Linked DNA regions of Homo sapiens: all the other regions are linked to region 1. Evidence: fine-mapped expression QTL. A gene starts in region 1. Each other region holds a variant in brackets. All regions are shown on one strand. Distances are from middle to middle. Region 1 holds the start of CCNT1 (cyclin T1). Region 2 has its middle 32 kb from the start of SNORA2C. Region 3 has its middle 24 kb from the start of SNORA2C.

Region 1 (7,539 bases):
TAGTAGAGATGGGGTTTCTCCATGTTGGTCTCAAACTCCCGACCTCAGGTGATCCGCCCGCCTCAGCCTCCTAAAGTTGTGGGATTATAGGCTTAAGCCACCGTGCCCAGCAGGATAATCTTTTCCTTAAAAAAAAAAAAAAATAAAAAAAAAAAAAAAAAAAAAAAGCAGGGAAATACTTGACTCACAAATCCATTTGAAGTATACAGCCGGTGCAGTGGCTCACACCTGTAATCCCAACACTTTGGGAGGCTGAGGCGGGCAGATCACCTGAGGTCAGGAGTTCAAAACCAGCCTGGCCAACGTGGTGAAACCTCGTCTCTACTAAAAATACAAAAATTAGCCAGGTGTGGTGGCACATGCATGTAATCCCAGCTACTTGGGAGGCTGAGGAAAGAGGATTGCTTGAATCTGCGAGGCGGAGGTTGCAAAGGGCCAAGATCGTGCCATTGCACTCCATCCTGGGCAACAAGAGCGAAACTCCATCTCAAAAAAAAAAAAATCAATCCATATGAAGTACTCATCAAGTTTATCCCTATTACCTTGGCGTTTTATTAAGTAAATACAGTCCTTCCTAGAACTGGGATATCACTATGCATTCAATTCCAAGTCATTTATAATAATGTTAAATAGGACCATTTCAAATAGCTACACTGAAAAGATCACTATTTATAATTCTGTACAAAAAAATAAAATTTCTTTATTAGTATAATTTTATTCTTCCTGTTCTTTGTAAAATTTTTTTTACCTTTTTTTTTTTTTTTGTAGAAACGGGGTCTCACCGTGTTGCCCAGGCTGGTCTCCAACTCCTGGGCTCAATCAGTCCTCCCACCTGAACCTCCCAAGGTGCTGTGATTATACATAAGAATGAGCCACCATGCATAGCCTATTTTTCATGTTCTTAAAAGTCATTTTCCCAGTTATTATTACATAATGTGCTTTCCCCTCCAACTGCTGACTGGAATTTTATCAAAGGCTTTTGGAAAATCTAAGTAACTTACATTTACTTCTTTTGCTGTGACCATATTTTATAAACTACTTCAAAATTAATGCCAGGAATGGCGGCTCATGACTGTAATCCCAACATTTTAGAAGGCGGAGGCGGAAGGATCCCTTGAACCCTGGAGTTTGAGACCAGGCTGGACAACACAGGGAGACCCCATCTTCACAAAAAAAATTTTAAAAATTACCAGATATGTTGGCAAGCCTGTGGTCCCAGTTACTTGGGAGGCTACGGCAGGAGGACTGCTTGAGCCCAGAAGGTTAAGGCTGCAATGAGCCATAATCAAATCACTGCATTCCACCATGGACAACAGGGCAAGACCCTGCCTGTCTCCCTACCCCAGCAAGAAAAAGAAAGCTATACCTAAATTCCACATGATTTCCCCTTTAATGTTACTCCTCCAACCCCAAAATGTTGACTTTAGATGTCTGATAATCTGTTTTTTGGGGTTTTTTTTGAAGACAGGGTCTCACTCTGATGCCCAGGCTGGAGTGAAGCGACTCAATCTTGGCTCACTGCATCCTCAACTCCCTGAGTTCAAGCAATCCTCTTGCCAGCTGCTGGAGTAGCTGAGACCACAGATGCATACCACAACACCCAGCTACTTGCTTTTTGTTTTTGTTTTTGATATTTTGTAGAAATGAGGTCTCATTATGTTGCCCAGGCTGGTTTTGAACTCCTGGGCTCAAGTGATCCTCCCATCTCAGTCTCTCAAAGTGCTGGGATTACAGTTGTGAGCCACTGCACCCGGCCTAATCTACTTCTTTAGAGAATCGACATGGATATACTAAATCCACTAGACAAGTAGACACTTAACAGGAAAACTGAAAAGCTGGATTCAGAACAGCAACACAGCACATAATGGAAGTGATCAACCCTAAATTCTAAAGTTCAAGTTACAGTTCAGTAGCAAAGACCAACCACAAATGGAATAGGTAGGTGGAATCAATCACAAAAGGATTATATCATATAAAAAAATTATACTTACATTTCCAGGGAACTGTGTGAAGGACTGAATCATGTAGAATCGATGCATGTATACTATAGCAGTGTTGATAGTCAATTGTGAGCTGAAGTGTTCAAGTTAAGATCCAAAAACAGGCAGGTATAATTCTGGAAAAGATAACCTCTATCTCCCTCCCAAAAGGATGAAATGGCCAAGCAAGTAGATACTACTAAATGAAAATCATACTTATCTCTCCAAATCAAAGAATATGTCTGTTTTCTTTCACCAAATTATTAATCGCCAACTGACACTTAGCACAATGCCTTACACATAACAAATATTTAATATAAATGTACTGAATGAATAAACAAACATCTCAGGATGTATGAATCTAGACAGATTTTTTTAAAAACTATATAAGGCGGCCAGGCGCGGTGGCTCACACTCTGTCGCCCACACTGGAGTGCGGTGGCACCATCTTGGCCCACTGAAACCTCTACCTCCCAAATTCAAGCGATTCTCCTGCCTCAGCTTCCCCAGTAGCTGAGATTACAGGCGCCCACCAACAGACCTGGCTACTTTTTGTATTTTTAGTAGAGACATGGTTTCACCATGTTGGCCAGGCTGGTCTTGAACTCCTGGCCTCAACTGATCGACCTGCCTTGGCCTCCGAAAGTGCTGGTATTACAGGCGCGAGCCACCGCGCCTGGCTGACAACCTTAATGACAACACACATACAAAAAGGAAAGCATTTTAAGGATGCACTGAAATAGAATTTCGAACAAAAAGATTTAACTCCATACTGACAGGATGCTTAGGAAACAAACCTGGACATCAGCAGGAAACAAACTGGCGATAAAACAGACACCCATTTTGAGATGAACACACCCTTAAGATACACACATTACTGTCAGCCACACATTTAAATAGAAGCTGCACCCAAGAAAATTTTCACACGCAGAGTGGAAAGAAATTTAAAACTATACTAGTTTTCTCCACCATAAAATAAGTGTATTTCCTAACAAACAAAAATATGTGGGAGAGGTTACCTCATTTTTTTTTTAATTTTTTTTTTCTGAGACGGAGTTTCACTATTGTTGCCCAAGCTGGAGTGCAGTGGCGCCATCTCGGCTAACTGCAACCTCCGCCTCCCGGGTTCAAGCGATTTTCCTGCGTCGGCCTCCTGACTAGCTGGGATTACAGCTGCCCGCCACTACGCCGGGGTAATTTTTTGTATTTTTAGTAGAGACAGGGGTTTAATCATGTTGGCCAGGCTGGTCTCGAACTCCTGACCTCAGGTGATCCACCCGCCTCGGCCTCCCAAAGTGCAGAGATTACAGGCGTGAGCCACCGCATCCAGCCGTTACCTCATTTTTGAAAATGAAATACATATCATCACTCTAAGTAAGTTAAGGACCCGGTATTTTGTAAACTATTTAAAACATTAGATTCGTGGGTATCCCCTACAAACGTAAACTAACATCTTTCCTCTGAAATTCTATAAAACAGTAGCTACTAACTGAGCATCTGAATGCAAAGCACTGTGCTGGACACAGAATCAAACACAAGAGGTATTATCCCATTTTATAGACAAGACGGCCAAAAATTTGAGAGGTCACTTAAACAGCTAGTAGATGAGGAATGGATTTTGGACCAAGGCTGAGGCATTAATTCTAGTCCACCCTTTATAACACTTTCAGGTACTGAATTTCTCGAAATTTACACACTAGGTTTGGGAGGCAGCCGTCAACAGAGAAACCTCTGCCAGACCTAGACCCCTAGGGCACAGCGGAAAATGAGAATCTTAACGTCACCAGAGCAGATCAGAACACAATGAAGACAGAGTTGGAAGGGCTGGTTAAAACACAAAGCCGGGAAGGATACGAATTCCCAGCAAGGCTGGCGGCACGGGTGAGCGAGCGGGAAATCAACTCTGCCTCGCTTCCCTAGCGCTAACTGAGTTTCAGCCCGCCCCATCGTGGGCTCTCCCAACTAGACATCCAGCTTCTGCCCACCTTCTTCCCCACTTTCGTCCCCCCCACAGAGCCTGAGACCCGGACGCCAGAGCATGGCGGGACCAACTCCAAGGCCGAAGGCCTAGGCCACAAGGATACACGTTAAGACGCTGCCCCATGTCCTGAAGCAGATTGGCCGCCTGCTGGCGATAAGAAAGTTCTTTATCTGGGTCCACGCCAAAACGACGGGATGGGCTATTTTCCAGCTGTTCTCGAGTGAAATACCACCGTTTGTTGTTGTTCTTCCTCTCTCCCTCCATAGTGCTTCAACCAGAAGGCAGCGGCGAAGGCTGCAGGCACTTCCCAGCGTCACCTAAGAGGCGACCCACATCCGCTGTGCGGGGGCAACTGCGACTTGACGAACTTCCGCTAAGCGTCGACCGCCGGGTTGTTACTTGCCTCCGTAGAGGAAGCAAAAGTCAAAGGACCTACTTCCGGAATGCACCTCGCTACACCCCGTAGCCGAGTTAACAGCCAATATGCGACCAGAAAAAACCTTGAGGCGAGGACGCAGGCGCGTCACGTGACCGTTGGGCGGTGGAGTGGGGTTAGAAGTTCTTTCTTAAAAACCGTGTATCTTCCCGCGAGAACCGGATTGAGCGTTGGCGCCCCGGGTCAGGCTGCGAGGCCGCAATTATAGTGGGATGGGGCGGCCGCCCACGCGCCGCTTGGCGGTTCTTACGAGAACTTTGTTTGTGACGGCAGTGGTGATGTAAAATGGGGCAGATGGGCCGGGCGCGGTGGTTCACGCCTGTAATCCCAGCACTTTGGGAGCCCGAAGCGGGCGGATCACGAGGTCAGGAGTTCGAGACCAGCCTGGCCAATATGGTGAAACCCCCGTCTCTACTAAAAATACAAAATTAGCCGGCGTGGTGTCGCGCGCCTGTAGTCCCAGCTACTCGGGAAGCTGAGGCAGGAGAATCGCTTGAACCCGGGAGGCGGAGATCGCAGTGAGCCGAGATCACGCCACTGCACCCCAGCCTCCAGCCTGGGTGAGAAAGCGAGACTCCGTCTCAAAAAAATAAAATAAGTAAAAATGTGGCAGATGAACTTGAAAGAGAAAGTAGGTGAGGCTGTCAGAAACTGAAAAACAGAATCAAATGGTGGGGCTCTTTCGTATATCGGAGCATAAAGCAACTAGAAGGCTGTTACATTGTTGGTAGCAATGTAAAATGCGACAACCCATTTGGAGAGGTCGCTTTAATGTGTAGCCAAAGGCATGAAAACATTCTCACGTTGTTCGCCAGTGATCCAACTTAAAGGAATAAAATGAAATTAATAACATTAATTAAGAGCTTACATGTCCCAGGCACAATACTGACTTAAATATACTGTTTCATTTATTCAGCACAACTCTAAGAGGTAATTTTTAAGTACGTTTGCGAATGGGTGAACTAAAACTGCCCCTTGAGTGTGGAAAGCCTCCACCACTACCCCTCACTTGCACAGATTAGCAAGTTCTTGCCCTCTGTCAAAATATTTCCCAGCTCCTTTGCCGGGCGCGGTGGCTCAAGCCTATAATCCCAGCACTTTGGGAGGCCAAGGCGGGTGGATCACCTGAAGTCGGGAGTTCGAGACCAGCCTGGCCAACATGGTGAAACCTCATCTCTACTGAAAATACAAAAATTAGCCAGGCGTGGTGGCGCACGCCTGTACTCCCAGCTACTCGGGAGGCTGAGGCAGGAGAATCATTTGAACCCGGGAGGCAGAAGTTGCAGTGGGCCGAAATCGCGCCACTGCACTCCAGCCTGGGCAACATTGCGAGACTCCTTCTCAAAAAAAAAAAAAAAAAAAAAGATACATCCCAGCTCCAGCCTCTGATAACTGTTTGGTGCTGGGCAAGATAGTTAACTTCTCTATGCCTCTTTTCTGTGATAATACCTATGTTTTAGATAGTGAAAGGGAGTAAAGATTTAATGAGTAAAAAGTATTTATAATAGTACCTAGTACTTAGAAAATATTCAGTAGCCCTTATTGTTATAATATTTGTTACATTGTATTGAAATTGAAGGCAAGAGCAATGCCTTCATTTTTGTATGGCACTTACCTAGTAAAGCCCTGGCCCTAGTAAATAGTCCATAAATCTTTGTCAGATAAATGTGCAAAACACCCACAATACAGAAACTGAGGCTTTGGGAGTTTGCCCTCACTACACCACTAATAAGTGTAGATCTTAAATCTAATTCCATTGATCTTTCCATTCACGCAAGCTGTATTCCTGCTTTTCTGGAACCATATTCAGTTTACCTTGATTAAATATGGGTAATTTTAGATAGATTTGGATAATATTAGAATCCTTCATCTTGCTTTGATAATATTTTGGGTTTTGTCATTTCTAGGCATGGGTGATCTTACTATGCTTGATTGTCATTCATTCTCAGAAGTATTTCTTTCCATTCAGGTCACCTCTGCCATATACTGCCTGTAGTTAGTATTAGCTCCATTTTACCCTGGAGAAATTGAGGTTCAGGAAGATTTAAATGACTTACTTCTAGTTATAAAGTAAAAGAACTTGGGATTTCAAATTTCTTCCCTCACAGACTCTTTACTATTAAGAGAATAAGCACTTACAAAATAGATTTTTTAGTAGAATAAGCACTTTTTCAGTTATGTAGTCATGTATGTTATCTTTTGAACAGCTGTGTTAGTCCATTTTCACGCTGCTGATAAAGACAAACCCAAGACTGGGCAATTTACAAAGGAAAGAAGTTTAATGGAGAACTCACAGTTCCACGTGGCTGGGGAAGCCTCACAATCATGGCGGAAGGCAAGGAGGAGCAAGTGACATCTTACATGGATGACAGCAGGCAAACAGAGAGCTTGTGCAGGCAAACTCCCATTTTTTTAAAACCATCAGATCTCATGAGACTCATTCACTATCATGAGAACAGCACAGGAAAGACCCACCCCCATAATTCAATCACCTCCCACCGGGTTCCTCCTACCATATGTGGAAATTGTGGGAGTTGCAATTCAAGATGAGATTTGGGTAGGGACACAGTGCCAAACCATATCATTCCGCCCCCAGCCCCTCCCAAATCTCATGTCCTCACATTTCAAAATACAGTCATGCCTTCCCCACAGTCCCCCAAAGTCTCAACTCATTTCAGCATTAACTCAGAAGTCCACAGTCCAAAGTCTCATCCGAGACAAGCAAGTTCCTTCCACCTATGAGCCTGTAAAATCAAAAGCAAGTTAGTTACTTCATAGATACAATGGTGGTACAGGCATTGGGTAAATACAACCATGCCAAATGGGAGAAATTGGCCAAAACAAAGGGGCTACAGGCCCCATGCAAGTCCGAAATCCAGCAGGGCAGTCGAATCTTAAAACTCCAAGATGATCCCCTTTGACTCCCTGTCTCACATCCAGGTCACACTGATCCAAGAGGTGGGTCCCCATGGTCTTGGGCATCTCTGCCCCTGTGGCTTTGAAGGGTACAGCCTCCCTCCTATCTCCCTTTCCAGGCTGGCATTGACTGTTTGTGGCTTTTCCAGGTAAATGGTGCAAGCTGTCAATGGAGCTACCATTCTGGGATCCGGAGGACCATGGCCCTCTTCTCACAGCTCCATGAG
Region 2 (7,539 bases), 94 kb before region 1:
GTTTCTTCTACTCAGGAGCTCTTGTGTCTGTCTGCAATGCTGCCGCTTCTCGGGTGCTGTAGAAAGCTGCGGTACTGGAGTTCCACCTAGTGTTTGTCTGTGGTACTGCAGATTCTGGTGCTGGAACAAACCACGTTGATCACCTTTGTCCTTAACCAGCCCCAACCTGAGCACTGTTCCTGTCAGTGCTTAAATTTGGGCAGCTCCCTCAACAGCATCTTCATAAGTCAGAATGTTGGGTGCACATTTCACTCCTTTCCCTTCCCAGGAAGAAGTGGAGAGTTGGAGGTATCCTTCAGATTATGTCATGCCGTGCCAGAGGGAAGGGTGAGTGAATGTCATAAATTTTCCTGCTAAGTTTTGATAGGGTTGCCTTCGCACTCGACTGAGGGGCAAGAACCTATTAACTGATTTCTGGATTCTTCAAACAGGTTTATATATTGTTAAGTTCATGTTCTCATGGAAGAAAGAGGGTCTGGAATTTCTTATTCTGCCATCTTGCTCATGTCTTTTATCATTTTTCTCTGGTTAGTGGTCACATTTATCTGCTTCTTTGTATTTCTACTAATCGTTCTATTAGAGGCTGGACATTATGGATATCCTGTTGTTGCGTGTCTGGATTTTGGGTTTTTTTTTTTGTTGTTTTTTGTTTTTTTTTTTTTTTTGAGATGGATCCTCTGTCGCTCAGGCTGGAGTGCAGTGGCGCGATCTCGGCTCACTGCAACTTCCGCCTCCCAGGTTCAAGCGATTCTCCTGCCTCAGCCTCCTGACTAGCTGGGATTACAGGCGCCCACCACCACGCCCGGCTAATTTTTGTATTTTTACTAGAGAGGGTGTTTCACCATATTGGTCAGGCTGGTCTCAAACTCCTGACCTTGTGATCCACTTGGCCTTGTTCTAGTAGACAGTTAAGATACTTAAGGTTCAGTTTAATCTTTTCAAGCTTTGTTTTTAAGTTTTGTTCGAATAGGTCTAGATTAGCTTTTATTCTTCGACTGATTTATACCTATACCTAAGGTGTGACCTTTCTGAGATATCTGCTGCATACCCCCAGTTTTCAATGAGATCTCTCCAGCCTGAATGGTTGGAGCTCTAACATCTCCCATTCTGTATGAGTTCTAGTGGTTACTTAACTTACAGCTCCTAGTAATATTCAGCCAAAGTCTCATGAGATTCCTACATAGGTTTCTGAAATTCTTTCTCACTATACCTCCCTCCTCTTCTGCCCTACAAATTTAAACAATCTCTGCCTCTCCAAACTCTGATCTCTGTCTCCTCAGCTTAGGCCCTCCTGGATTCCAGGTCTGGAAAGTGAGTCAAGACAGAAAAACTAATGTGATGGTAGGACTTCCCTTCTCTAAGGAATTAAGGTTCTGTGCTATATGTTTTCCAGTAGCTGGAAACAGATATTTTATGTGTTGTCCATTTTGTAGTTGTTTACATCAGGAGGACTAGACTGGTACCAGTCACTCCGTCATGGGTGGAAGCTGAAAACCTTACCCTCATTTTTAACTTTCTTTTTTTTTTTTGAGATGGTGTCTCACTCTGTCGCCCAAGCTGGAATGCAGTGGCACAATCTTGGCTCACTACAACCTCTGCCTCCCGGGTTCAAGCGATTCTTCTGCTTCAGCCTCCTGAGTAGCTGGGATTACAGGCGCCCACCAACAAGCCCAGCTAATTTTTCTATTTTTAGTAGAGGCAGGGTTTCACCATGTTGGCCAGGATGATCTTGATCTCCTGACCTTCTGATCCACCCGCCTTGGCCTCCTAAAGTGCTGGGATTACAGGCTTGAGCCACCATGCCCAGCCCCCTCATTTTTAACTTTCTAAAACCTCTACTGTTTTACATTCTAGTGCATATTCCACTTTCTCCATTAACTTCCCTTAATCCCTTCTCAATAAACTATGCAGCTCTTTTGTAGCAGTTGTCACATATTCCATACTGTACCATAGTTAATCTGCAGGCAGATCCTATGTCTTGATCATCCAATAATGCCTAACATGTGTGGAGCTCCAAAACGTTTATTTATAAGTTAACCCAATTAAAAAATGGGCTAAGGACCTGAACAGACATTTCTCAAAAGTCATATAAATGACCAATAAATACATGAAAAACTGCTCAGCGTTACTAATTATTAGGGAAACGCAAATTAAAACCACAATGAGATATCACTTCATACCTGTTAGAATGACTTTTATCAAAAAGATGAAAGATAACAAGTGTTGGAGAGGATGTGGAGAAAAGGGAACTCATATATATTGATGGTGGGAATGCAAATTAGTAAAGCCATTATGAAAAATGATATGGAGGTTCCTCAAAAAACTAAAATAGAATTACCATACAACTCATTAATCCCACTTCTGGATATATATCCAAAGGAACTGAAACAAATATGTCAAAGGAATAGCTGTGCCCTCCTGTTCATGGCAACATTATTCCCAACAGTCAAGATATGAAAACAACCTAAGTGTCCATCAACAGGTGAATGGATAAAGAAAATGTAACATATATACACAATGGAATACTATTCAGCCTTAAAAGGGGGGACATCCTATCATTTGCAACAGTGTTGATAAATCTGTAGGACATTATGCTAAGTGAAATAAGCCAGGCACAAAAAGACAAATACTTCATGATCTCACTTATATGTAAAATCTAATAAAGTTGATCTCACAGACGTAGAAACTAAAAGGATGGTTACCAGAGTTTGGGGAAAGGGGTGGAGATGGAGGGAATGGGGAGTTGTTGATCAAAGGGTACAAAGTTTCAGGTAGGAAGAATAGGTCTTAGGATCTATTGCAACAGTGGCGTGAATATGGTCAATAATAATGTGTTATTTATTTCAAAATAGGGCATAAATTTCAAATGCTTCACCATAAAAAAAAATGATAGGTAAGTGAGGTGATGGATATGTTAATTAGCTTGATTTAATCCTGCCACATTTATACATATATCATAGTGTATCCCATAAATGTATGCAATAATGATGCATTGCTCAAAAATACTAATGTTAAATAAATGTTTTAAAATTTTTAATTTGTTGAAACACTGAGATACCCTAAAAAGACACTGTCTTCTTTTCAGTTGAAATACATACAAAGAGAATAAATAACCTCCCCTCTTAGTGAAATGTTGGCCTATATATAGCTTACAGTCCCTCCCAACCCAAAGATTCCCTGAAAAAAATGGTTAGGCAAATTGTGCTACAGCTACATAATGAATATTATATTATTATTTTAAATGTGGGATATATAACATGCTTATAATAAAATGTTAGGTGAAGCATCAGGATTCAAATTGTACATATGATAATAATTATAGCTATATAAAAAGTGCATTAAAAACTAGAAATAAATTTTTAATAGCAGAGTTATTATAATGTGTATGTATTGTTGACATTTTTTTTTTCATGATCTAAGATTAGTCTTGAAAGACAGTTGGCTTGGTTTTCCAATTATCTTCATGAAGGATGGCTTAGGATGATCAGTTATTCCAAAGCCAAACTTTATTTTTATTACATATCGTCCAACATCTTACTGGATTTAGCTAACAGCCTTATTGAGAATACTAGTTCATGTAGTTATCTACAAGTACATTTTGAAACTAGTTTATCCTGAAGGACTGACCAGGAAGTTTTACTGCTCATATTGAGGTATTATAAGCTTTATGGAGACTTTGTTTGAGACTGAGTCACCTTTTCTACACCTAAGACTCTCTACTCTGCCTCTCTTCTGCCAATGTCACACACTTGTCCAGTTTTTTCCAGGAAGAGCCATGCCAGTCTGTTCCTAGAAAATCTCAGCCCCAGCCCAGAGCCTGTGCTGTCCTCCTCCTGGCCCAGATCTGCTCTCTGCTTGCTATGGAAGAAACTCGGTGCTATAGTACTGCAGTGGGATTTCCTATTTACATTTGTCATTCAGCTGCATTTTAGTCTGTCTCCATTATCTTGAAGGGATCTGACCTG[G/A]TTTTATGTTAATCTGTGATGTTAAACTATCCAACTAAACAGGACAGAATACCTACAGAGTTATATATCAGTTTCTTCTTGCCTCCTCCCTGCTAAGAGATCAAAGCGGGACCCCAGGGTCCTAACCCAGGCCAGGGTAGAAAGACTGTTGATTTAGCCCTTAGAGGTCACACTGTGTCCAGAGTTGGTTCCTTCCAGCAGGCTTTTGGTCTTGCTGACTTCAAGAATGAAGCCGCAGACCTTCACAGTGAGTGTTACAGCTCTTAAAGATGGTGTGTCCAGAGTTTGTTCCTTCAGATGTGTCTGGAGTTTCTTCCTTCTGGTGGGTCTGTGGTCTCGCTGACTTCAAGAATGAACCCGCGGACCTTTGCAGCGAGTGTTACAGCTCTTAAAGGTGGTGCAGACACAAAGAGTGAGCAGCAGCAAGATTTATTGTGAAGAGTGAAAGAACAAAGCTTCCACAGCGTGGAAAGGGACCTGAGTGGGTTGCCGGTGCTGGCTGGGGTGGCCAGCTTTTATTCCCTTATTTGGCCTCTCCCATGTCCTGCTGACTGGTCCATTTTACAGAGTGCTGATTGGTCCATTTCACAGAGTGCTGATTGGTGCATTTACAATCCTTTAGCTAGACACAGAGTGCTGATTGGTGCATTTACAATCCTTTAGCTAGACACAGAGCGCTGATTGGTGCGTTTTTACAGAGTGCTGACTGGCACATTTTACAAACCTCTAGCTAGCCACAGAGTGCTGATTGGTGCGTTTTACAATCCTAGCTACAGAGCGCTGATTGGTGCATTTTACAATCCTCTTGTTAGAAAAGTTCTCCAAGTCCCGACTCGACCCAGAAATCCAGCTGGCTTCACCTCTCAACACTCTTGATAGCTCATCCCAATGCTGCAAGAACAAGTTATAACATACATTTCACCTTGGGGCTCATTCTGAGAATTGAATATTTATTAAATTAGCTAATCAGTTAATATTTGCTTTATGAATTATAAAGTATTCCATAAACGCTGGCTTTCATTGTGGCTATTTTCTTTTTGGTCACCCAGGCTGGAGTGCAGTGGTGCAATTATGGCTCACTGCATCCTCAACCTCCTGGGCTCAAGCGAAGCTCCCACCACAGGCTCCAGAGTAGCTGGGACTACAGGCATATGCCACCATGACTGGCTGATTTTTTTTTTTTTTTTTTTTTTTTGTAGAGATGGGGTCTTACTATGTTTCCCAGGCTGGTCTTGAACTTTTTGGCTCAAGTGATCCTCCCTCTTCAGCCTCCCAAAGTGCTGGGGTTATAGGCATGAGCCACAGCATTTGGCTATTATGGTTATTCTTATGTCTTGCCAGTCTTTCCCCACTCATAAGGGGGAGGTAATTAGGTTTGAATGAAACACATGGATGTGGTCCCTTGTAGACCTGAACATTTCCCTGGAACCAAAAGATAGATGCAGCTGCTCCAGTTGGCTCCAAACTACATCTCCTCTCCAAGGAGGCTCTTCTCCAACCTGCACAAGGGAGGGGCGCTCTCCTCCTCTAGAAAAGGCAGTTGCATCCATAGCAGCACATACGGAATAGGGACAACTGTCTTCTGTGAGCACCCTAGGGTGTAGGGAGTCAATAACATGTGGAGACTCCACAGGAGAGAAGCAGAAAGTCCACAGAGCTGTCAGGTGGCAGAAGAATTTAGTCTAGGGGTAAAGACGTCCAGGAGAGAAGTTGACTCCAAGCCCAAAGCAGGTCCGCCCCCATCTTCACTGAGCTTGAGTATCTGGCGTTCATATGGGTCAACCCTGCTCTCTGCCTACAGAGAGGACCACCACTGACCCAACCTAAACATGCAGAAGAGAGTTTATCATTTTTGTTTGTTTGTTTGCTCTGGGAGGTTCCTGTGGATGAGGCCCATATTTGCCAACAAACTTCTGGAGGCTCTAGGAAGAAATTCCACTTCACCACACTGACCCTGTCCCCCGAGCCTCATCTTATTTTCAAACCCCCCAAAAAATGCAGTAAATAACAATGGTTAACCCCTTAAGAATCACCTCTAGGAAGCCAGCACAGATGAGTAATCATGGGTTTTCCAGCACCACCACACCCTTGGTCCTTGTTCTGTGAATTAAATGTAATTCCTCTTCTTTATAAGAGTCTCTCAAATATTTGAAAACAGTTATCATATTCTTCTATTCATTTTGTCTTTTCCAGATTCTCTACATTCTTCATCTATTCCTTGTATTTCACAGTTTTCAAGCCCTAATTCATGATACTCAGGCCGGGTGCGGTGGCTCACGCCTGTAATCCCAGCACTCTGGAAGGCCGAGGCGGGCAGATCACGAGGTCAGGAGATGGAGACCATCCTGGCTAACACGGTGAAACCCCGTCTCTACTGAAAATACAAAAAAGTAGCCGGGCTCGGTGTTGGGCACCTGCAGTTCCAGCTGCTTGGGAGGCTGAGGCAGGAGAATCAGTTGAGCCTGGGAGGTGGAGGTTGCAGTGAGCTGAAATCATAACCCTGCACTCTAGCCTGGGCGACAGAGCCAGAATCCATCTCAAAAAAAAAAAAAAAGAAAAAATTCATGATAGTCAACAAAAAGCCCAAATTATTTTCACATAATTGGCTACTAAGTTGGGTCTTACCCTTCCTATGCTTGTGTAACCGGTTGTTAAAATCTACATGCAGATTTTATATGTGCCTCTGTTAAATTCCGTCTTGTTTTTAGTTTGGCATTCCAAAAGGCAAGATTATTTTGAATTATAATTGTTGCTTACAATATTGATTTTCCCTCTTTGTTTCATATCATCTGAAGTTTGATGAGCCATGCATGCTTACTATGCCTATTGAAGTCATTGCTAAAATAGGTGACGAAGATAAGATCTACAACACATTCTCCTTTTCACTAGACAGATTTCTCCAGATTTTTAGTCATTAATGAATAATTTTGGTGTATGGTAGCCAAACTAAAAGCGTTATCTTTTTTCTTTTTTTCTTTTTTGAGACAGAGTCTCGTTCTGTCGCCCAGGCTGGAGTGCATTGGCACGATCTTGGCTCACTGCAACCTCCGCCTCCCAGGTTCACGCCATTCTCCTGCCTCAGCCTCCTGAGTAGCTGGGATTACAGGCGCACACCACCACACCTGGTTAATTTTTTGTGTATTTTTAGTAGAGACAGGGTTTCACTATGTTGGTCAGACTGGTCTTGAACTCCTGACCTCGTGATCCGCCTGCCTCGGCCTCCCAAAGTGGTGGGATTACAGGCGTGAGCCACTGCACCAGGCTAAAAAAGCGTTATCTCTAAGCACACAGTCATCATCTTTTTATGAAGCTTTACTGAGATTAACATGCCCTTTCTCTGCTCCTTTCTCCTGATTGTTAAATTATTAGTACTGTCAATAAAAGATATTATTATGAGGTTTTACATTAGGTTCAGCATTACAAAGATCCTGGTGATCCCTTATGGGACTTCCAACTATTCTACATAGCATCTATTTAGGAATTTTACCAGGAACCAAGGTCAAATTCATTGGTTGGCAAGGGCAGTGCTTCTAACTTTATAATCATAAGCATTGGCTCAGAGTGTAGACTTCAG
Region 3 (7,539 bases), 85 kb before region 1:
CGCCTCCTACCCTTCCACAGTTCACCAGCTGTGGTCCTCCTGTTGGTGCCCAGCCGGGACCTCCAGGTAAATAGCTCCCTGCGGATTGGAAGAACATTATGCTGCTCTCTAATTTTGACATTTCTATCACTTAAAAAACGTTTGGGGCCAGATGCAGTGGCTCACGCCTATAATCCCAGAACTTTGGGAGGATCGCTTGAGCGCAGAAATTTGAGACCAGCCTGGACGATATAGGGAGACTTCATTTCTGTTAAATTTTTTTTTAAGTAGCCAGGCATGGTGGCATGTGCTTGTAGTCCCAGCTACTTGGGAGGCTGAGGTGGGAGGATGGCTTGAGCCCAGGAAGTCGAGGCTGTAGTGAGCTGTGATCGCACCACTACACTCCTGCCTGGGTGAGACCCTATCTCAAAAAAAAAAAAAAAATGTGGGTGGAGCAGGTTGGGAAAGCACTGTAGAACAGTAGACCATTCGGGAGCCTTAGAGTCAGGCAAACCTGGGTTCACATCATGACTCCATCATAATGACCTGGAATAATTGACTTGAACAAACGGGTCTTAGTTTCTCTTCCACATCTGGGAGACAATAAGGCCTGTCTCTGATGCGTGCTGTGATGAGTAAATGGATAAGCCAAGCATGGAGTGTGGCCATAATAGTATCTTTGTTAATATTAACTACCTTCCTCTCTTCTCTTGGGCCCAGACCTGGAAGAAGAAGCAGTCCAGTGGTGACAGTGGGAACCAGACCACCTGGCTGATCCTAGTGGGCTTCGGGGAGCTGCAATACCTGGGCTTCCTTCCCTTCACTCTCTTCCTGGCCATCTATGTGGTGACAGTTGGGGGCAATGCCCTCATCATGCTGGCTGTGGCCTCTAGTCGGACACTGCACCCACCAATGTACTTCTTCCTCTGCCACTTCTCCCTGCTGGAGATTGGCTATACCTCCAACGTCATACTATGGCTGTTGCAGAGTTTCTTGGAGGGGAAGGAAGTCATCTCTCTAGTCAGCTGTCTGGCTCAGTTCTACGTGTTTTCCTCGCTGGCTGCAGCTGAGTGCCTCCTGCTATCTGCCGTGTCCTATGACTGTTACTTGGCCATCTGCTGCCCCCTTCACTATCCTGCCCTGATGAGCACCTGGTTTTGTCACTGCCTGGCCGCTGGTGCTTGGTTCAGTGGCTTCTTCTCCTCTGCCTTCACTATGGCCCTGGCAGCACCTCTGTCCTGGCAGCAGGGAGATTGACCACTATTTCTGTGAGTTTGCTCCAGTAGTCAGGCAGTTCTGCGGGGATGTGGGAGTCATGTAGGGAGCTGAAGTCAGCATCTCAGGCTTCCTGACACTGGCCGCCTTCCTACTGATTGTGGCATCCTCTGCCTTCATTGAGGGCTGTACTGCAAATACCCTCAGGCCATGAGAGGCAGAAAGCCTTCTTCACCTGTTCCTCCCACCTCACCGTAGTTGGGGTATTTTATGGCACCCTCATTGTGGTCTATGTGGCCCCAATAGAACACATGTCCCCTTGCTTCTAAAGGTCTTCTCTGTCCTCTACACAGTGTTCACTCCCATGGTCAACTCCATCATCCACAGCCTCAAGAACCAAGAGGTGAAGGGGGCTCTGCATAGGCTCAGGGGACAGCTCATCCCAGGACACACTCACTAAGGAGGACAGGACAGCTTTTGACTTCTTCCTGGATTGATTTCAGCTTAGCCCCTTCCTCAAAGTCTGATGGACTAGAGACCACTGCAATAAAAAGATGGAGACTGTGGGATTGAAAATGGATGTCTACCAAAATGAGGTAACTGTATTTTCCAATTGGAATTGGCCTCCCTATCCCCAGTGGTAGCAGCTTCCCCAACCCCAGCGACAGCAGCCTCTGTCCCTGTCTGAGGGAATTAATCCCACATTGCCTGAAGAAACTGTAATTGCCTCCCCTGGGGCAGTTCCCATGCAAGACAATGCTGATTCTCCTCAGAACCCATACCCATCACTCCTCTTTGGTTCTAAAACTATAGCTAGACCCAAGTCCCTGCAGGCCTCTAAAGGTGAGCACAAAGTGTGACCCATGAGGACATGCACTACAATCCAAAAGAATTACTTGGGTTTTCTAATTTATACAGACAGAAATCCAGTGAACATGCATGGAAATAGATCTTGAAATTGTGGGATGATGATGGAAGGAACGTAAAGTTGAATAAAGCCGAATGTATTGATATACATTTGTGACAGTGGGAACCAGACCACCTGGCTGATCCTAGTGGGCTTCGGGGAGCTGCAATATCTGGGTTTCCTTCCCTTCACTCTCCCTTCAAGGCTCACTAAAGCAGAAATTCTGCATTTAATGTTGCAGCTTGGGGAACTAGGAAGGATTCTAACAGTTTGTTTAGTTGGTTGACTGAAACATGAACCAAAAGGTGGGATACAGTAAGTGAATTAGAAATGCTGGATCTGCCTTGATTTAATGTAGAGAAAGGATTCAACGGCTAAAGGATATTGAAATATTAGAGTGGATTTGTTACTTAAGACCTACTTACCCATGTGAGAGGGCCCAGAAGACATACTTTTCACTATGACTAAGAAATAGGGAAGCCCCGGCATCCTTGAAGAGCTCTGTAATCTCTCTTCACTGTAGCCCAGACCTTACGGTGAGGACTGCAGTCACTGAATTGGGAAACCTACATTCAATGGGAGTGACTGCATCCTGAGATGGCAGAGGCCAAGTGGCAGCACTCAACCTCCAAAGGCAAGGTGTACATGGTTGCCACAATGGACAGCAGAGTCAAATCAGCAATCAGAATAGCCGGACTCACACAGACCTATGGCATACTGTTTCTAGAAATGCAATAGATAAGAAGCCTACTAAATTCTTACTTGATCAGAAAAGTTCTAAATCAAGTGAACATCAGCTAAGTTTTTATCAGGGTTATTCTACTAGTGCCACAAGAGAGTTAGATTGGGATTGTAAGAATGAAGGGGAAGTGATGATGAGGGTAACAAGAGGGATTGAGAATCTCAGCCATCCATCTTATTGGTTACAAGAAATGAAACTATTTCAACTTCCCTTGAATATCTTTCTTCATTTT[T/C]CTCCATGCCAAACCTACTCTTTCTCATGTAGAGAAACCTTCCAAGGATGGTTTTTCTGTGCTGCCTTCCAAGGATTCTCCTCCGCTACCTTTCCACCTTTTCTCTTGCATGTACCTTGGGATATAGAACAAAAGTGAATATATACAAGTGAGTATTTGGCTGGGAGATGAGGCTGGAAAGGTTGATTGGGAAACAGACTGTGATTGATTGATTACTGGTCATTCCAATTTTAATTCCATAAAATGACACCAAATAATTTTGGATTTATTTGGAATAAAATTCCAAATTAATAAATTTATTATAATTATAATTATTATTTTATTTGGAATAAAATTCTAAATTTATTAATAAAAGCATTTAATAAATTGTTGTATATTTTCCATGGGCTAATTATTGCTTAGGACTGGGAGTGCATATGAATTATAAATGATCTCTGACATTGAGGATCTCATAGTTTTTTCAACTCAGTCTTTTTTTTTTTCTTTTCTTTTTTTTTTTTTTTGAGATGGAGTTTCACTCTTATTGCCCAGGCTGGAGTGCAATGGCACCATCCGGCTCACTGCAACCTCTGCCTCTCGAGTTCAAGTCATTCCCCTGCCTCACCCTCCCGAGTGGCTGGGATTACAGGCGCCTGCCATCACACCCGGCTAATTTTTTTTTGTATTTTTAGTAGAAACGGGGTTTCACCATGATGGCCAGGCTGATCTCGAACTCCTGACCTCAGGTGATCTGCCCGCCTTGGCCTCCCCAAGTGCTGGGATTACAGGGGTGAGCCACTGCACCCGGCCTCAACTCAGTCTTAAAAATGGATTTTCATTTCAGATAGCACTAGTACAGCATAAGTTATGTCTCATCTTTCCCATGGCCTATTGGATGACCTCTCATCATGGAGCACTCTCCCTTTTCTATCCATACCTTTTGCTCTCTCTGACACAGGGATCTGCTTGGTTCAGTGTGAGAGTAATTTGAACACCCAGGCCTTTAATGGAAAAAACTGCTGATGGCAGTAGTGACAACGGGATTTTCCAGCTGAACAACTTCTGATACAAAGACCACAAGCATTCCTCAGAAAATGCCTGCAACCTAATGTGCAGCAGTAAGGACTCTATCCCTCTGAGGGCTGGATGAAGTGGGAGCAGGTAAAATAGGTGCAAAACTGAATGCACTGCTCCCTATCACCTGACTGTCAGCCTGTGCTGGGGAAGCTGAATATGGGGAATAAACAGTCCTCACACTGAAACAAGATCCCACAGAGATCATCCTGACAAAAAGAAGGAAGAAAGACTGGCCCCTGGCTAAGCCCCCTGATTCACAATCTCCTTTTCATCTTCCCCATTCATGGGTTCCCACCCTTCAAGACATGTTATCTGCTCCTAGTACACACATCATCCCACATACCAGCACTCCAGACATTCTGAGCAGCTTCCCGAAAACAAAAGCTCTCCCTAGTCCATCATGTCCTAGATGCCTTCTGGAAGGACCAGTGCTCAGAGAAGGAGTCTAAGCAAAAACAAGAAAACCCAGGCAAAATGGAAGGCAAACCCAGAGAGGAGCTCCAGAGAGAAAGGATTTCTGAATCTCAGGATTCACTTTCCTCTGGGAATTCCCCTCTAAAAATGATCAATAATTCAAAATAGAAAAAGAGAGATTTCCCTCCCCACTCATCCACTTGTCCTTTCAGAGTTTATTGATGATAACATTGGTGATGACAAACTGCCAAGAGGACTGTGTAAGATCCTAAAGTGATATCTGCCTGGTAAGAGGAATGTGAAGGGCAGAGAGCAACTGTTCTGCCAGTGGGGTTTGGTGGGAGAGGGGCAGATAATATCTGGGCTACTGATGTTAGTGGCATCTGTGCTGCAGGATTTGCCATGGGCTTTGGGAGAGGGTTGAGAATGTTCCCCTGATGAGAAAATGAGGCAGAGTAATCATGTGATGCATTCATCCCAGGCATCATGGCAGCACCCACATGCATCCTCTTCACCTGGGACTCTCCAACAGCATAAATTGGCTCCAGCCCGCAAGCCCAACTTTCCCTCAGCTGAGCCCCTTTCAGACTTCTGCCCCTGCCTCTGATCTATACTTTATTTCTCTATCCTTAAGGCAGCCTGGGTAAAACACTGCAAAGCCAAAGATTTGTCTAAATACCTGACCAGCTGTAAGCTGTGAGACTGTTTAAACATGGCTCTTGGAGAAGGTAGCCCAGAAGATGGGGTAATTTCTCAAGGTTCTTTGAAGTTCTGAATCTTCCCCCATCTCTGCCTCCAAAATAAAAGTTACTCAAGTTCACCTGTCTCAAGCAGAATGCTTAAGGACTGGGTCAAGATGGAGCCTTTCCTACATGATATAAACAGCTGGATATCCCATTCTCTCCAAGCCCACCACTGAAGTTTCCTATATCTCCTCTGGAAAGATGATTAAGGAAAATTATTGTCTCAGAAATTCCTGAGGGTCATCCAGATTGGGCTAAAATTGACAGCTGAATATGGCATTCTAGATGCTAGCTCTCAAAATGCCAGCTCTTATAAAATTCATTTATTGGAGAGGGTTAATCTTATTCTCCATCACCAGAAGGAGACTCAAGAGGAAACAGAAGGAAATTGTGGGAGAGGTTTGATTTACAGACAGGGAAAGATTGGCAGAATATCAGGGTGATGAGCTTAGGGAAATAACTAAACTGCTGTAAGAAAGTCCCAAAAATATGGTGCTAGACATTTATTTGTCTCTCACAATAGTCTAAGATGGGTAGACAGGCTCCTTTATTCCACAAAGACATTCAGAAACCCAGGTTCTTTCCATTTTGCATCTCCACCATTCTCTTTATTAAAATATATTTTATTTATTTTTTATTTTATTTATTTATTTTTAGATGGAGTCTTGCTCTCTGTCACCCAGGCTGGAGTGCAGTGGCGCGATCTCAGCTCACTGCAACCTCTACCTCCCAGGCTCAAGCAATTCTCCTGTCTCAGCCTCCCGAGTAGCTGGGATTACAGGCGCACACCACCACACCTGGCTAATTTTTGTATTTTTAATAGAAATGGGGTTTCACCACGTTGGCCGAGCTGGTCTCAAACTCCTGACCTCAAGCAATCCACCCACCTAGGCCTCCCAAAGTGCTGAGATTACAGATGTGAGCCACCATGCCTGGCCACTTTACGTTTTACTTTGGAATGTGGCATCTGTCTATTGTCTTTAGGACTCAGCTGAAACTAAAATGAAAAGCGTTTCTCATTTTATCTCCTGATTCATTGTCTTTTAACAGTTTATAAAGCACTTTCAGACACTAGATCTTATTTGACCCTTGCCATACCCTCCGTGTTACAGAAATCATTCCCCAATTGGCACTATCACTGCCTTGCTGCTCCTGCAGCTGCCTCCTTCTCTGATGGATTTCATCATTTCTGCTGCTGTTGCTGTCGCTGCTGTTGCTGTCGCTGCTGCTGCTACAACTGCTGGCTCAAATACTTTCCTTGTCTTGTTGGCAACACACCATGGTTAAGTCCCAGCTGAGGGTTCCCAGTAGGAGAAGGAAGGAGTGGAAGAACAGGAAAATAAAGTGAAGAGGAAATAAAGAGAGGCCAGCTTGTACTATAGCATTAGTGTTACACAGCTCTATACTAGGGCTAATTATCTCCCAAATCTCCTAGAGGAAGTTCTCTATATCTCCACATTCCAGGAAGCAGCAAGGTGGCTCACAACTATCCAGGAATCCTGTCCGGACTGGGCATGGTGGTTCACGCCTGTAATCCCAGCACTTTAGGAGGCCAAGGTGGGTGGGTCACCAGAGATCAGGAGTTCAAGACCAGCCTGGCCAACATGGCAAAACCCCGTCTCTACTAAAAACACAAAAATTAGCCAGGCGTGGTGCTGTGGGCCTATAATCCCAGCTACTCAGGAGGCTGAGGCAGGAGAATTGCTTGAACCCAGGAGGCAGAGGCTGCAGTGAGCCAAGATCACACCACTGCACTCCAGCTTGGGCAATAGAGTGAGACTCCATCTTAAAAAAAAAAAAAAAAAAAAGAATTCTGTCCCCTCCTTGGGTAGAATGAATTATTATTCCCAATTCCTTACCTCCTACGTCAGTGTGATCTTCCAGACCACACATAGGACAGAGTATTATTTCCCCACTACATCAAGGTTGAACTTGGCCATGCAACCTGCTTTAGCCAATGAAATGTTAGCAGATATGACTAAGTTGAAATGAAAAATGTGCTTGCCTGGTGTCATTTGGCTTCTTGTGCTCTGTGATTGCCAGAAGAGAGCTGCACTCTCTATCTACCTACATCCCAGAATGAAACATTTAGAACAGACCTGATCCCAACCCAAATCCTGGCTCCTAAAGTAGAGTCTCCTCCCCAACCCAACCCATCAGCAATCCACCAGACCCAGGAGCAAGAAAAATAAATGCTGTTGTAAGCCACTGAGTTTTTGGGTGGCTTATAACACAGCAAAGACACTGACAA

Evidence for each region. PIP is the estimated chance that this variant, and not a neighbour inherited with it, causes the effect. A credible set is the group of variants that fine-mapping cannot tell apart.
Region 2: its variant is the best candidate, but not a certain one, in a credible set for the expression of CCNT1 in fibroblasts (GTEx, PIP 0.63).
Region 3: its variant is the best candidate, but not a certain one, in a credible set for the expression of CCNT1 in whole blood (INTERVAL, PIP 0.83).

The regions. Positions count from the first base shown.
Region 1 is chr12:48,712,452-48,719,990 of GRCh38, forward strand. CCNT1 (cyclin T1) reads right to left here and starts at 4,256. Exons shown (of 9, transcript NM_001240.4): 1 at 4,064-4,256; 2 at 1,992-2,073. The coding sequence starts at 4,224. RefSeq lists enhancers at 4,021-4,300, 4,371-5,371, 4,771-5,010.
Region 2 is chr12:48,618,552-48,626,090 of GRCh38, forward strand. No RefSeq gene overlaps it. Among named protein-coding and RNA genes, the nearest start is that of SNORA2C, 32 kb to the right of the region's middle. The variant G/A (reference allele first, on the strand shown) is at 3,966.
Region 3 is chr12:48,627,162-48,634,700 of GRCh38, forward strand. It overlaps the pseudogene OR11M1P. Among named protein-coding and RNA genes, the nearest start is that of SNORA2C, 24 kb to the right of the region's middle. The variant T/C (reference allele first, on the strand shown) is at 3,076.